Linked DNA regions of Homo sapiens: region 2 is linked to region 1. The links come from fine-mapping of genetic effects on gene expression. A gene starts in region 1. The other region holds a variant in brackets. All regions are shown on one strand. Distances are between the middles of the regions.

Region 1 (8,337 bases):
ACTCCAAGGCCAGAGGTTGCATAAAGCTTAAGATTTGACAGTTTGAGGAGGGTGCCCCTAAAATCAAGATTTCTGGATCTTACAATGGTAGTTAGCCCTCTAATAATAGGCAAAGATGCTAAACACTTCAATTTCTACTAATCTAAAAAAATGCACGTAGGAGGATACTTCAGAGGCATCACAAACTTTTCTAGTTGGTTAAAAAGCACAGCTTTTATTTCCGTTTGAAGAGAAAGGTAGAGGAGTTAAAAGGGAAAGGGGGATAAAGGAAACACAAAAACTCTGAATCAAAAGGATGTTCATAGTATTCAAAAGCATCTAACAATAATCTGAATGTCCAACCATGAGATAATTGTTAAGTAACTTATGGCAGAGCCACACAACAAAATATAATTGAGTCATCCTTTAAGATAAAGAAAAACGATATATGATGTAATGTTACTCATGCAAAGTTGATTTTACAGTATGCTTTCTGCTATATAAAAAACAGACTAGAAGGAAACAGACCACTATTTCATGGTGGCTATTTCTGGATGGCAGAAATATGGGTGACTTTCTGTTCTCTGCTATTTTTTGGTCCCTAAGCATCTAGAGACTCTTTTCCAGGACTCTCCAAAATCTTGAGTTATCTAATATGCCTAACCAGACTCCTTGAGTTCAGTGTTCTTTCAGTAGGGCAGGAATTACCACTGTGGTCTGCTTGCCCATCTACTGGGATTTAATAAGAACACCGGAGTAAACCTTCCAGCAGCAACTCATAGCACTCAGAATAAAATTCCAACTCCTTAGCTTGGTATCCAAGCTCAGGCCCTTGCTCACTTCTCCTACCCAGCCCCTCGCTCGCTGTGTCCAGCCAACTGGCCAAGTTCATTCCCTCCTAAGAGTGTTTAAACACACTGTTCTCTCTGCCTAGAACTCTTTTCCCCAGAACTTCCTATGAATGGCTCAAAATTACACTAAATGCCTCAAAATGCCACCTCCTTACAAAGGCCTTCCCTGACACTGATTCCCATTTAGCTGCCTCTCCCCCAGCCCCATATAAGTTTGAGGGTTTTTCTTTTCATCTATAGAAGCATTTTCTGCTATGTACCCAAATAAGTTTTATCACAGCAGTCTTAGCACAGGGTGATAGCTCTTATCATCATGTGAATCCGTTTTTTTTTAACTTGTTATCTGCTCTAAGTACCCCTCCCCCCAGATTATAATCATGAGAGCAGGTGCCTCATCTGTCTTGTTCAATATTATCCTAGTACCTGGAACAGTGTGTGAAAATAGTAGGCGCTCAATAAACAGCTGTTGAAGGAATTAATGGATATCACTGAAGGTGTTAACACAGAGAAGAAATGAAAAGAAACCAGAGGTGCTTTAGTAACACAAAGGAAATCATGTGGAAGCCTGTTTTCTTTTCTCCTATTTGTCAAAAGCAGCCAAGTATCACCTTCATTTGCATGTACAGGGGTGCTATTAAAACCTACACTATTACAGTGTTAGCAACTACACTGACAGTCACCAAATTATTGTCATCTGCAGCCCAAACCATACTTGCTAAGTCTATGCTTCCCCACAAAACCACCAAACCACAACAAAGGTTGTAACTCTGCAGATCCTGGAAGCTGCCTTGGGAACTGACTGCTAGCTCCTCTGGCTAGCAGAATAAACTTGGGTGCATCTTTACCTCCGTTTAGGCTGAATGACACCAGCTAGCCCAACTAATTTACCTAACATGGGTAAAGCTAAAGCTCTTGGCTTTATATGCTATCCCACTGAAAACTCACAGCCACCCCGCAAGGCAGTTATTACATTTCACAGAGGAAATTCAGAAGGGCTAAAACATTTGTCCAAAATAATTCACCCAAGTGCATAAAACTAAGAATTGAAGCTCTACCAAGCTGGAACCGAGGTGAAGTGTTGAGCTGGGAAGAATACAGGTAGCATTTCCATCAGATTAAAACCGTAAATTTTTAATTGCCATATATCCAAATTACATTCTGACTAGAATACCGGCCCCTTTTTGTGACCCCTTGCTAAAATACCAACCATCCTTTAAATCACAGATCAAACTACTTCAGAGAGCGTTCCCCGATCACGCCAGTCAAACTTGATTAATCCTTTGGAAGCTACAAAGCCTTGTACCTTCTTCCACAATATTTAGCACACTTTGCCTTGAATGTTTTACATGTAAATGTCATGTCAACACTACTCTATGATCCTCCAAGATATGTTTATCTCTCATGTCACCTCATTCATGTACAGCACATAGTAGATACTCAAAAGATGTTATTTGAATGAGTAAATGAGTGAATAAAATGGAACTCGTAATATTACATATGAGGTAAATCACCTCCTAAGTTTACGAATTATTACCATTTCACTATTTCCTAATGGATGATGAATTTATAACCGGTATAGAAACAGAATCTAGTGTGATAGCCTTTGCCGGTTACCTAGTCTAATCTACCCAGTTTTTTCAGGAGACCCAGAAATTCCTTCTACAGCCTGCATTTTGCAATTATTTAAAATATTTACTAGCCGGGCGCAGTGGCTCATGCCTGTAATCCCAACACTTCGGGAGGCCGAGGCAAACGGATCACCTGAGGTCAGGAGTTTGAGACCAGCCTGGCCAACATGGCGAAACCCCATCTATACAAAAATACAAAAATTAGCCGGACATGGTGTCAGGCACCTGTAACACCAGCTACTCGGGAGGCTGAGGCAGGAGAATCACTTGAACCTAGGAGGCGGAGGTCACGCCACTGCACTCCAGCCTCAGCGACAGAGTGAGACACTGTCTCGAAAAAAATAAAAAATAAATAAAATATTTATTTAGCATTTAGCCCTACCAATCCACGGGCCCTGCATCCACAGATTCAACCAACCACAGATGAATATATTTCGGGAAAAAAAATACAAATTTAAAAAATACAGCATGACAACTATTTCCATAGTATCCACATTGTATTAGGTATTATTAGTGATCTAGAGATGATTTAAAGTATGTCGGAGGATGTGCATAGGTTACATGGAAACACTAGGCCATTTGATATAAGGTACTTGAGCATCACAGGTTTTAGTATCCGCGGGGTATCTGGGAAGGACCACCTTAGTTTGCTCAAGGAATGTCTAACTTGAGTTTTGAAGAAATAGAAAAAATCAGCCCTGGTAAAAGCCATGGGGGGTTCACTCTAGGCAGAAGGAACATCAAAGGAAAAGACTCAAGGAATAACTTGGCATATTTGAGGAAGAGAAAGGAGGCCAATAAGGAGGGTATCTGGCAAGGAAACAAGTGGTAAGAGAAACAGGAGAGGTAGCAAGAGCCAAAACATGTAGTATCTTGTAGGCCAGGATAAAACAACTGGATTTTAAGCTAAGAGCAATGGAAAACCAAGGGGAGTTTAAAGCAGGAGCAGGGCATGATTTTTTTTTTTTTTAAGATTATTTGGGTTGCTGGATGCAGAGCTGGGAGGCCAGTAAAGAGGAAACTGCAGTCACTCAACTGAAAGGTGATGATGACTTGGACAGGGGCTGTGGTCATGGAAATGAAGAGAAGTGGACAAATTTGAAATACACTCTTGAGGCTGAACTGACTGGACTTGCTGACGGACTGGATGTGTGGACATAAGAAAAAGGTGGGCTTTGCTTTATAACAAGTATTGAGACTGGAAAAACGGAGGAAAGCATAGATTTAAAGAGGAAAACCATGAGTTCTGCATTGCCCATGACAAATGTAAGAAGCCTATCAAATATCCATGAGGGGAAGTCAGGTGGGATCCCACTGTGGAACTCTGGGTGAGACTCAGCTGAAGTTATCATTCGGGAGTCAGCACACTGCATCACTCTACGTCCTGGTCCGTCCGTCTGTCTTCCTGGGACACAAATAACTGCCTTCTCCGAGTTCAACCCTGAACATCTGTATCCTCTGGACAACGGGGAGCGGGAAAAAAGCTACGCAGGAGCTTGGATCGGGCGAAGCTCGCGGGAAACCGCTCTGGGTGCGCAGGACAAAGACGCGGGGACAGCGGGGAGGGCCGGCCGCAGCCTGCCGGGCTGCCCCCACGGCGCGGAACGCGCGCAGCAACCTCCACCAGGCCTCCGCGTCTGGACTCCCGCCCTGCCTCTGGGCCTCCTCCGCCCACCGGCGGCGTCTCCCGCGAAGCCCGCTGGGCCTCGCTCTCACCCTCCTCCTCCTCCTCACGCCGGGCCTTGCTCTTGGCCTTGGATTTCTGGCTGCGCAGTTCGCGTCCCCGCGGCTCCCCGCCGGCCGCGCGTTTCCGAGCCATGTTGCTTGTCTGGGCAAATTCCACTTCGCGAGTGACGCACCCGGCCGCGATGCGCTAGAACGCCGGCCCCGCCCCGAGGCGGTGCGCTTGGCCACGCCCCTTCGTTGGAGGCCTAGTCACGCCCCTAAAGGAAGCTCCACCCCATACCCGTGGCCACTAAAAAACTGCGGGAAGCAGGAAAGAGCACAACAGGTTTCTCTCTATTTCCGGTGTATTGTATCCTCACGTTTCCGGAGATTGACGTTGCTCTTGTGTTCTCGCGAGAGGCGGGAAAGGGCGCAGGGTTTGAAACATGGCGGACGACGTAGACCAGGTAAGTGTATTTTAAGGAGGTCGCTCGAAGGAGCTTCTTGTACTAGGCTGCTTTTTCCAGACTCAGGAAAAATGGCCAGTCGTGCCTCCTCTCTCCAAGTCACCATGGCCTAATCCACCCTGTCCTTTCCGTAACCCCCCCTCCGAATTTTGCCGTAGGCCCTGAGACCTTTTCCTGTTAGAAGCCCACCTGATGACTATTCTCACACTCTTCGCTTCATTTTTTTAAATCTGTAGATTATTATCCTTAGCTACCTCATGGAGCTGTCAGGATTCCAATAGAAAGCCAGGTAATAAAGTTAGGAGTTGTTATCATTAGTGAGCGCAACAATTATTTATTCATTCAGCAGATAGAGTGAACATCAGCTTTGTATGGTTAGGCACTGTTCTAAGGGCCAGGGACACTGACATCGACATATAAGAGATCCTTGCCATTACTTGGAGCTTATATTTGCGAGGAGAACAGATAAAAGTAAATATAAATATGTAAGACTTCCAGGAACTGTGATGTGCTGTGAAGGAAACAAGGAACTGGTATGCAGAATAACAGATGGTCCTAGAAGCTTTTTCACCTGGTCTTTTTCTTCCTCAAATATCTTTGGAGATCATGCCACAACTTAAACTTTCTACTGAAATCTGACCTCCTCAGAGAGGACTTCTGCCCAAATAGCACTCCCGCTACTCTGGTTACCCTGCCTCATTTTTCTTCATAGAGAGTTATTTTTTCATATTAAATGTATGCATCTTTGTTTAATGTGAATCTCTCCCCACTAGAATGTAAATGCCATAAGAGCAGGGATTTTGTTTTGTTCATTCTTTTGTCTTTGGGGTTTAGAACAGTGCTGGAAACACTCAAAAAATATTTGAGTGAATGAGTTAGATGATCAGAGGAAGCCTCTTTGAGAAGCCAATATTTAAAGCTACAGGATGAAAAGAGCAGACAGTGGGCATCCCAGACAGAGGCTTAGGTAGCAGTAGGGCTTTTTCATGTGCATATTCTTACAGTATTATAATTATTTGTATGCCTCTCCACAGTAGAATGAGCTCCTTGAGGGTGGGGATTGTGACTTCTCTATCATTGTAATCTAACAGTTGGTTATCTGATCCTTTAACAAACACTTGTTGAACTGAGGGACATAGGGACCAGTTGAGTTAGGTTATTTTTTTCTCTCATCAGGCCTTTTGAATCTTCAGAGCCTGTTACCAATTCAGTTACCTTCCTCCACTGGCCTTGTGTACTTACTGAAGAAGCTCTCCTTGAATAATCTTTCTAACTCTTAGCGGCTGCAACCATCCCTTCCATGTGGGTGACCCCAAGTCATCCTAGCCCTGACCTCTAAAACCAATGTTTCCAGCAGTTCTGTAATAATATAATATTAATAGGAATCTTTTCTTTTCCTTTTTTTTTCTATTCTTTTCTTTTTTTTGGATGGAGTCTCACTCTATCGCCCAGGCTGGAGTGCAGTGGCGTGATCTCAGCTCACTGCAACCTCTGCCTCCTGGGTTCAAGTGATTCTCCTGTCTCAGCCTCCCAAGTAGCTGGGACTACAGGTGCGTGCCGCCACACCTGGCTAATTTTTGTATTTTTCGTAGAGATGGGGTTTCACCATGTTGGCCAGGCTGGTCTCAAACTCCTAACCTCAGGTGATCTGCCTTTCTCAGCCGCCCAAAGTGCTGGGATTCAAGCGTGAGCCACCACGCCCGGCCAATAGGAACCATTTCTAAATATTAATATTTTCTGTTTTCCTGGCACTGTTTTTAAATGCATTAACTAGTTTAATCCTCATAAGAACCCAGAAAGAAGGTTGTGGCTTTCTCAATTACAAATGAAGAATCTGAGAATTACAGATGGCATGATTTTTAATCTCAGTTCATAAATGTCAGGTCACAGCCAGGAGTTGAACCCGGACTGCCTGACTCCAAAGCCAGTGCTTGCTTGCCTTTTTTTTTTTTTTTTTTTTTTTTTTTTTTTTTTTTAAAAAAAAAAAAGACAAGAGTCTCACTCTGTTGCCCAAGCTGGAGTGCAGTGGCACGATCTTGGCTCACTGCAACCTCCACCTCGCCAGGCTCAAGCAATCCTCCCACCTCAGCCCTTGGAGTAGCTGGGACTACAGGCATGTGCCACCATGCCCGGCTAAGCCAGTGCTTTCAACCAGTGTTCTATACTGGCTACTAAATATATTTATCTTATTCACCAGTTGGCAGCCTAAACTCAACCTGTGCTGAATTCATAATCTTCCCATAAACCTACACCTCTATTTGGCATTCTGACTAGTGTATGGTAGGCATTAAGTGAGTGTTTTTCCAATGATTACATAATATTTGAGATAAAGCTAAAGTCCCTGAGACCCTATGCCCTGAAATTGGGTCAGGCAGTTTGGATTTTGAGGGAACAAAGTATAGTCATGATTATTTTGCTGTGTAACTTCTCATGTATGTGTGTTTTAACCTACATTTATATAGCACGTATTATGTGAAAAGCTCTGTTCTAAGCCTTCATGTATATCACTTAAGCCTCACAAAAACAGTATTAGGTAGACACTATTATCTCCATTTTACAGATTAGGAGACTGAGGCAGAAAAAGGTTAAATAACTTGCCCATGGTCACACAGCATAGCAGTGATTTAAGCACTACTCTGACTCTAGTACTACATTACTAATCCTGTTTCTTTTATCAGCAACAAACTACCAACACTGTAGAGGAGCCCCTGGATCTTATCAGGCTCAGCCTAGATGAGCGAATTTATGTGAAAATGAGAAATGACCGAGAGCTTCGAGGCAGATTACATGTAAGTAAATTTATCAAGTTACCTTGAAATCAGATTCCTTCCTACCCCCACTCCCTTGAAATGTAAAACCTGTCCAGAGTGAAAGGGTATTTTGAAGGAAGAGAGGGTGGTGGAAAGTCACCCATATCACATAAGCCAAATAAAGCGGCATGTATTCACATTTTTAACATTTTTTCTTTTAATAGAAATACGTTTATTATAGAACATTTTTATTCCCTTCATTTTTCCCTTCTGTTTATTTGTAAATAATATTTACTTGTCCTCCATTCGTAAATGTTTTTTAAATTTAAAACACAAATATGTGTTTTATTAGGAAAAGTTAAACAGCACAAAAATATATAGAGTAAAAAGTGAAATCCCATTTCTTCTACTGGTAATCACTACTAAAAATGGGATTATCTTGGCCAGGTGCAGTGGCTCATTCCTGTAATCTCAGCACTTTGGGAGACTGGGGCAGGAGGATCACTTGAGGCCAGGAGTTCTCTGTGTTGCCAGCCTGGGCAACATAGAGAGACCCTGTCTCTACAAAAAATAAAATTTAAAAATTGGGTTACCTTTTCTGTATGTTTACACATATACACTCATATATGTACATGTGCACATACTTGCATTATGTACACCCTACCTCTACAAAACATGGATCTTGCCATACATGTTTTTCAGTACCTTTTTTTTTTTTCACTTAATCTTTCTTGGAAATTGATCATGAGTGCATTTAATTTTCGTTTATTCTTTTTAATGACTACCTAGGATTCTGTATATGATAGTGATCGATTTTTTTTCATTTCTTGCTACAAATACGTAAATACTTGCAGTAAGCATTTTTTTACATATTTCTTTGTGCATATCTGCAAAATATCTGTAGAATTGGTCCCTTGAAATAATCCCATTTGTTCATAGAGAACCCTGAAGGTTTTGCCTCTCCTTAATGACTTGTTACTTTCCTAAGTGTGTTGTT
Region 2 (8,337 bases), 62 kb before region 1:
AAAAGGAATATAATGAATCAGAATAAATCAGCTCACTCACAAGAAACGTTCTTGGGTAATGGTTTTTAGTTGCTGAGCTTATTCAGCACATTATTTAAAAGTGGCAAAATTCAGGGCAATCTGAGAATTCAAAAGTGGCGGCCACAGGTTTGGGTAGGACACACATACATACAACCCCCATTTTTTTCAGTGTATATGTCAAGATGTCAAGACCTCAAGACCTCTGATCATCAAAATAAGTTATTTTGTATATTATAATGCACAGGACAACAGAAGGAAACTTTCTTGGAAGGTGATGACAAGGCCTTTTGCAAAAGGTCCACTCCAAAAGGACTGGTGCCCAGTGCCTTGTGGCCTTCATTAACTTGATCCCTCCTCTTCTTTGGTTGCAGTGGCCTCAATGGGAGCTGTTTCTTCTGCTTGTTCTGCTGGCTTCTTCTCTCTTTCCTCTTCCTCATCCTCATCCTCTTGGGGATAGAGGTCTGGGTATTTCTGCATGCATTCCTGCATGGCCCGGAACTGGTCTACACAGTCTGACCCCTTGATCTCCTCCGTGCTATAGTGGAAGCAGGAAAAGGCTGACTTAAACTGTTCTCCACAGGGACCGCTGGCCATTCCCCCAAGGCATGGGCAGTTCCAGTTAATGTTTCCATTTGGCAGTATCAATCCTAGAACAGGAAGATAGAGAGATGTTCTCTAAAGTTTCAGAAAATACAAAACTAGTCCAGTCCTCACAGGCTACTGAGGGGGTGCAGAACAGGAACTATTGTTGCCTATGGACCCACACCTCGATTTGGATTAGGTTTAAAGCCTAGCACATATCCAGCATTCCTTGGCCCACCTGGGAGAGAAGCCACCAATGACATATTTCTCCACGTGTGACACTAATTTATTCTAAGCCACCTCTCAGTGCTCTGAGGCTGTGCTCCAAGAATTAAATACCGGGACCCATTTAGCCCAAAGAAGAGGAGATCACTTGGATGGTTAGTGAGGAGCTTTTTGAAAGCCCAAACACTTTAAGGAACTGAGGTATTGATCTCCTCTTTCCAATCCCCCTCCCCATATGGATGATCAGGACCACCCCACCCCCATGCTCCCTGCCCCCCTGAGCCCCTCTTGCCCTGCAGCTGCTCTCAGAAGCTCAGCATAGCCTGGGGACTGGTGAAAAGGAGGAGGTTGCTCCTTATGTACTGACGAAGAAAGATGTCCAAGACATGCTGCACAATGAGAAGCTGGTGGCATACCATTAGTGCGAGTGCATTCTTGTAAAAATCAACCAAACCTGTTAAACTGCACATATGTGTTGGGCAGGAAGCAAGGTTATAGATGGGTTTTCATTTTCACTATATTAATAGGCTTCTTACTTTTGACTTTTATACCTTTTCTTATCATTGAACTTTATTCACATCTAAATAGTATTTCTTGGTTTTCCAAAATGCTCTCAAAACGATGGCTTCATTTTCAGCTTTGTGAAGACATGATTCATACAGAAGTTTCTTACATGATTCTTATTAAGAGACTGAAAGTACTTTCTAAGAGAGCCTCTAAAAGGTCCTGTGAAATTACACATGATTCTTCACTCCAGGGCAGTACCCAAGCCTGGCACTCTGCACTAACGTCCAAAGTCCTAGGCGAAACCCCGCCTGCCTTCAATTCCAGCTTGGGAAGCTCCACTGATCAATGGATCTGCTGTAGCTATTCCTGTTCCTTACTTGTAAAATGGGGACAGCAAGGACGATGCCAACTAGTGCTGCCCCCTTAGCAGGCGCAGACCCCCAGGACCATCAGCAGTTGCAGATCAAGTTCTCCTGCATTAAGCTACGTTTGGTAACTCACATAAGCCTTCTGACAACCTTCTGCAGTGGGTGCTACTAACCCCAGTTTACTCATGCAGTCTCTGGGGTTCATGGTCCAAGTGAGGACTGCAGACTGGGCTGACAGGATTCCCAGAGTCCATGCCCCTTCCCCTACATCTCACCACTTCTTGAAATGGACCTCAGTGCTGGAGAAACATTTGCAAATGCTGCCCCCTGGAGCTTCAAATCTGCTCACAAACCTGCACAACCAGTTTCCAAAAGAGGTAATACTGACATTTAAAAATTACAACCCAGTACAAATTGACCAGGTGGTTGATTAAAAAAAATCATAACAAAAAATGTATAACCTAGGTCTCCAGGAGTCCTTGTTTCATTGTTTCTTAGGGGCAGGTAAGCTGGAATGAGATACCTCCTCACAAAGCACATGGTGCCAATTTGCATTTCAGGGACACAATATAAATCCACACAGAGGGTACCTTTGGCATGTTACATAAAGCTCAGATGCAGTGTGTTGTCAAACATGCAGTCTAAGGCCTGAAGTTCCAGTCTCTGGCTGAGTCAGTCTCCGCCCCCGCCCAGGCCCCCAGTTTTCTCATTGGATCAGATGATCTTTAAGGCCCTCTTGATGTTTTGATTCTAGGAAAATTAATTCTGCCACCTTTTTTCTTGGTACTCTTAGCTATTCCAAGCACCATCTCAGCTGCAGAGCTGGATGCTGGAAGGCAGGTAGATGGCATAAAATGGTGGCTTACTTGGTCCACTTACTAATTTTGCAGTTTAAGAGCTTGAAACTTGGGTCCCAGAGTTCTTTGCGTTTTATAGGCTTCTTTTTACAAAGTATTCACTATAAGGGGCTGTAAAGCCAAATGCATCATATGGTATACCTACTATCCAAGCAGATACATTGCAAGTGACAGAAGCAGGTAAAAAAAAACAACAGGGACAGGAAAGAATGGTGGGATCTGGAGGGGGCAGACCAGTCTAAAGGCAGATACGTACTGCTTTTAATAACACTGTGAGGCAAACAAAACAAGGCCCGATTTGTCCTGCAGGCCTCCACAGTCTTGATCAATTAATGAAATGTGCTTAATATGGATCTAAAGATAAGCAAGGTACTAGAATTGACATGTAAGCCCTGATCAAGATTACCCTTGCAGCTGTCTTTCTCAGAATGCTAACACTTTGTATAACGTCTGCATTTCCCACTGCTCCCACTGGGTGCTGGATATGTATTTTATGCTTTAACCCCTAGGAGCAGTCAGGGCAACAAGTGAAGGGTCCTACAAGGAATATACACACATCAGTTAGCATTTGAGAAATTCCAATCAGGAGCCCATATTCTCGAGGCGGCTGCTTCAAGCTCTTCAATTACCAGTTAGCACTAGAAGATTAGTTGTCATCATGGACATCAGAAGTGGTTTTTGATTGGTGAAGTGACTACTGTACAATACGTAGATTGTTCATGGACACTGCACACACACATCCACCTCACACGGTCTGCAGTAGTAAGTATCTAGTGAGTTTAGCAGCCCAAATCCTTTGGAACAATGTCCTAGGCCTAAGCGACCACTGTTATATTCAGCCATTAACCAAGGAGTGAGCAACAGCTCTGACTAGGTTAGCTGACTCCTGCTGCTAGAAAGCTGTCTGTGGCAAGTGACCTTTTCATGTAAGGTGCTTGCTGGAGCAGTTAGAGACAGCAGGGACTTCACCAACCTTACAGAACAAGGTGAATGACTGTCTACTTGCTAATAAAGTTGGTAGATGTGGCAGAATTCAGTCTGGCAACTTGTCTGAGCAAAAGCCCTGTCACCTTAACCTACCTATAACTGCTGGAATCTACTAATACCCTCTCCCAAAACTTAGCTGTTGTGCCAGGGAAGTACATCAGAACAAGGCTGGAAAGCACAGTCCCTCAAACCTCTGAGGAAGATAAACCACTGCCCTCAGAGATGGTCTATGGCTGAGAATAGATACCTGAAAACTTGGCCTTGGCTAGGAAAACATGGGAAAGGAATTAAGAACACTGAGCTTCTCCCCAGTGCCCTGGTGTGGGTCCCTGGGAGGCCACATGTCACTCACCATGCTCCTCGTATGGATCGTTGGGGTCATCAGCCACCAATTCTGCACTGCTTGGAGTTTCATGATCTTCTTTGGTTACAAATATGATTCGATCCTTCCCTAGTGTTTGGAGAACAGAGGAAGAAATATTTCATTCAAGAGCAGTGAATCAGCTTTAAACCCAAAGCAGCCGCCACACAAACCAAGTTTGAAGACTCTCCCATATGCCATCCCTATGTGAGGTGACTATCAAACTGCTCTCATATGCTAGGGGTAGCAAACAAAAGCGGATGGATAAGGGGCAGGGCAGGAAAAGAAGCACTGAAGAAAAAGAGTGTCCTGGGGTTGACCCACAGGGTTCAGAATGCATAAAAGTTGAAGGAAGACTGAGCACATTGGCAAAGTGAGTGTGCAGTGATGTGGGTCCTCAGCCTACAGATCACTGCAGCCCACATAGCTGATGCGGCCACAGGCCCCTGCCTCTGAAAGGCTGAGGACACAGGTGGTCTGAGAGGGACCACAGCCAGCACCCCCACTAGGCCTCTGGGCTCCTAATCGTGGCCGGAAGAAGGAAGGGTCATAAGGTGAGGAACACTGCAGCCGTTCCACTCCCCACAGTCCAAGAGGCCGGGGGACCATTTCCCAACAAGTATAATAACTGGAGGGGGGCAGTGGGAGGAGCACTTCTCAGATCTTTTTAACTGTGACCATCTGCAGTTTATTTTTTTAGGACAAACCCAACAGTGGTTAGGGTCAGGACTGTGGTCCTGTGAGGACCAGCATGGGAAAGCCAGCAGGCCTAAAGTGCAGAGCACCTTGTTCACAACCAGAGCCCTCACCCTGGGGCCTGGCTGCCGGAAGGTCTGAGGGCTCCAGGAAAACAGACCAGTGAGAGTCAAATGCATTTTATATTAGGAGCTTCTCCTCACTGGAGGCTGGGTGAGCACAGAAAAGCACATCAGTCCTGGCCAAACCAGGGTGGGTGCATTCACTGCCTTAGAGTGACCCCCTATGAAGTATTATCACCCTCAGCCCCCAT[G/C]GAGTACAACAGAAAACCAAGGCTGAGTTAAGCAGAAGGGAGGTCCTTACAGCCCTCTCTGCTACACCTTGTAGCTGTCAACACTTTACCTCACCTCCCTAAAAACTTTGGCCATCAGCTAACCACACCACAGGTATGTGTCAGATATTCCCATTGTGGGCAAGGAGCACCTTGTCCTCAGTACCCCACACTGCACGGTGGGTCATCAGTTTCTCCAGCTGTCCCCAGAGAACAGACAGAGCCAGTCCATCTTTTGGTCCTCCGTGTGAGCTCATTCCTCCATCCTATCGCCACCCTGAGAGGGAGGTAGCAGCATCCCCTTTTAATGGTGGTGAGCCTGAGGCTGTGAGTAGTAACTTGCTGGGCCACACAGGACAGGATGCTCTGAAGTCTACACTGTTGGAGATCCTTTCTACACACCCATACTGCCCCGCACCAACATTTGCACAAGAATAATCGACAGCTGACACTGAGCACTTAGCATGACTGGGCACTGCCTGAGAGCTTGTGCACCTTGGGCAATGAATAAATACAATAAATTCTGACCCAACCTCGGCCCCAAAAAGCTTAGAACCAAGTGAAATGTTTGCCAAGTAAACAAACAAGATCTTTCTTGTACTTTCCTGGTGAAGGTGAATGACAAATTCTACAGACCAACTGACCATGCATTCTGATCCTAGAAGATCTGGGGTACTGGGACCCTCATCTGGAAGGGGATAGGAGGTGCCAAGCATTTAAGAAGACTTCTTCAGGTATGGCCAAAAGTGCCTGGCAGAGAGCCACAGTGCATGGCTCTGAGTGAGTGGCCACTGTGGGCGCAGAGGCCGGACCTGCAGAAACGTGGCCCTGTGAAAGCTGCGGGCATCTCTGATCACTTTATACTTTTTGTTTATATTTAGAAAAGTTCAGTCACAGCTATGCTGAGGGGAAAGCAAGGAAAAAGGTTTGGGCCCATGCTTGGGCTGAAGTAATTAAGGAAGAGGCTTCTGGAAGGAAGGGGGCAGTGACAACAAAAACCGAGCGACATCTCCAGTGAGAAGGACAGTTCAGGGGACAGAGGGAGGGCACTTTGGTGCCTTACGCCATGCCCACACTGCACAGGGTCTCTTACACTAGAACAGAGTAACAACAAAAAACCCTCAGCACACGGGGCCAGGACCCCCAACCCACTGGAGGCTTTTGCTCCCAGAGCTGGCCTCTGCCTCAATACCTTGCATGTCATCCAACAGAAGGCTGCTTTTCCCCTGTGGCTGACTGGGGAAAGCTTTTGGACCAGGCAGCCAGGACTTGTTAAAGTACCTAGTAACCTTGATTCTACTATTCTGGCCAGTTTCCAAAATACTCAAAAGCAATCTGTAAAAATGTTGAACGCTAAGCAGAATGAGCTGATGCAAATTTCGCAACTCAGCTCTGGCAGTTTTGTTTACCGAGATGGCAGCTCAGCGCAGCCCAACGGGGAGGCCCAGTCACAGGCACAGAAAGCAAAGGGTCCAAACGTGGTAAAGTATGAGGCCCTCCTGGGGTTTGCCATACATAGAGAGACCAGGCCTCACCCAAGAAAAGCTGAATCGAGCTCTCTGCCATGTCCATGTAGCTCACGGGCTTCACAGGTGACTGTGATACACAGCCAGGTTAGGAAACACCAGCCTAGCACAATCCCACTGAGAATTCCAGGTCCCTCCCACTGGGCCAGGTCCTCACATGTGCCTTCCTGGACATTTTCCCTTGCAGCACAGTTCACACTGGATCGAAAGTAGAACAGTAACAGCTGTATCTTTTACACATTTTTGTCCCATGCAATGTGTTTTATTACATCTGTGAGTTCACTGGTGGGTATTACTTTATCTCCATTTTACAGAGACCACAGGATCTGAGAAACAGACCAAAAGACATGCAGTAAATGAAGGCAGAACAGGAACAGGAACTCTGGTCTGAAAGATCTGGAGTATGTCCCCTACAAACTGTCCATTGTATGCCTGTCCTAGAGGGCCTTTGCTTTCTGGAACTTTTAAAAGTCGATTCAAGGACTGATGCAAGGACAAGGCTTACCTATTCCTAACAGACCTAACTGTGAAAGAAAGGACTGGTCAGACTAGTCGTAAGATGCCAACTAGTGGGACAATCAGCTAGACTAGTAGTTCTCATGACATTTGTCAGCAATTTCTCTAGAGAAATAAAATTTAAAAGTGCTTGTGTTTTTATTTCTAAGATAAGCTTTAAAAGCAGTTGAATATGCATGTTCTGAAGGAGGTGGAAAACTACCTTAAACCCTCTGGTGCACAGTGGCTTCAATATTTCAATATCACAGAGAGTCTGAGAACTGGAGTTCAAATCTGGGCTTAAGCACTTCCCACTGTATGAGCTCAGGTACCATCTGGGCCTCAGAAACCAGGCCTTACCACCAGCTCCACCTACCTACCTCACGTGGTTGGGGAGGTGAAATGAGTTTCTGCTGTCAGCTGGAATCCCACTTGACAGCAATTTTTAAAGGGCATCAAGGATAGCATGGCCAGGAAAAGAGACAATCACAGGCTCAGAGATGTCAATAATGTTTTGGAAATGGGAGAGCTGATGGTCGAGTGCTCTCTGACTTAACCAGTGAAGAAAGCTGAACTCAAAGTGCACAAGGAGGAGGTCATCCAGAATCAACTCAGTCCCCACCCCAGAACCTTGGTCAGAGTGGGGAACTGGAGGCCCGAGGGGTTACTCTGAGTGCAGGACTTCAGGGTGGGGCTGAGAACAGAACTGAGTGAGCAGTCAGATACAAAGACACCTTCCACCCCCAGCTGTTTAGTTTTACTCTCGGTAGAGCCACCCCAACCCGTCTTTCTCTCACATCTCCAACAGCAAATTGGAATGGCTCGATCTTCAAATACATCCAGAAAGAGCTGCATCCCTCACCTCTTCGACCCCATCTCCCACCATCACTCCCTGCACTCCAGCCACGCTGGCCTCTGCTTTTACTTGAATGTGCTGAGCACATGCCTACCTCTGGCCTTTGCACAGGGTGTTCTGTCCTCCAGGAGCACCTTCCCTTCCCTCAGGTACCCTCACAGCGATTTCTCCCTGCTTTCACCTCCTGCTCAGATGCCACCGTCCCTGACCACTGCCCATCTCCCTTATCCCGCTTTATCTTTCTCCAAAGTGCTTTTCGTCACCCAACATACTATGTATGTTTACCACTTGATGCCCCCACTGGAATGTCAGCTCCTCAGAGGCAGTGATTTTTGTCTATTCTGTTCATTGCAGTATCCTGAGAGCCCAGAATAGTACCAAGGACAAAGTGGGTGTTCAATATTTGTTGAAAAAAATGAATGGAGAAACAACTCTGGATTAGGGCTTGAAGACCCAAGTGTAAGAATTAAAGAGGAGAGAAACACGAAGGGTGGCTTTTCAGTCAACAGGGACAGGTTTATTTTA

What was found.
Region 2: its variant is fine-mapped to the expression of XPC in whole blood (TOPMed, PIP 0.96).

The regions. Positions count from the first base shown.
Region 1 is chr3:14,174,292-14,182,628 of GRCh38, forward strand. XPC (XPC complex subunit, DNA damage recognition and repair factor) reads right to left here and starts at 4,310. Exons shown (of 16, transcript NM_004628.5): 1 at 4,175-4,310. The coding sequence starts at 4,277. It overlaps LSM3 (LSM3 homolog, U6 small nuclear RNA and mRNA degradation associated), which reads left to right and starts at 4,526. Exons shown (of 4, transcript NM_014463.3): 1 at 4,526-4,590; 2 at 7,269-7,379. The coding sequence starts at 4,570. RefSeq lists a silencer at 3,950-4,069 and enhancers at 4,120-4,469, 4,570-4,619.
Region 2 is chr3:14,112,527-14,120,863 of GRCh38, forward strand. CHCHD4 (coiled-coil-helix-coiled-coil-helix domain containing 4) reads right to left here. Exons shown (of 3, transcript NM_001098502.2): 2 at 3,900-3,998; 3 at 1-668. The coding sequence ends at 361. Among named protein-coding and RNA genes, the nearest start is that of CHCHD4, 8.2 kb to the right of the region's middle. The variant G/C (reference allele first, on the strand shown) is at 4,918.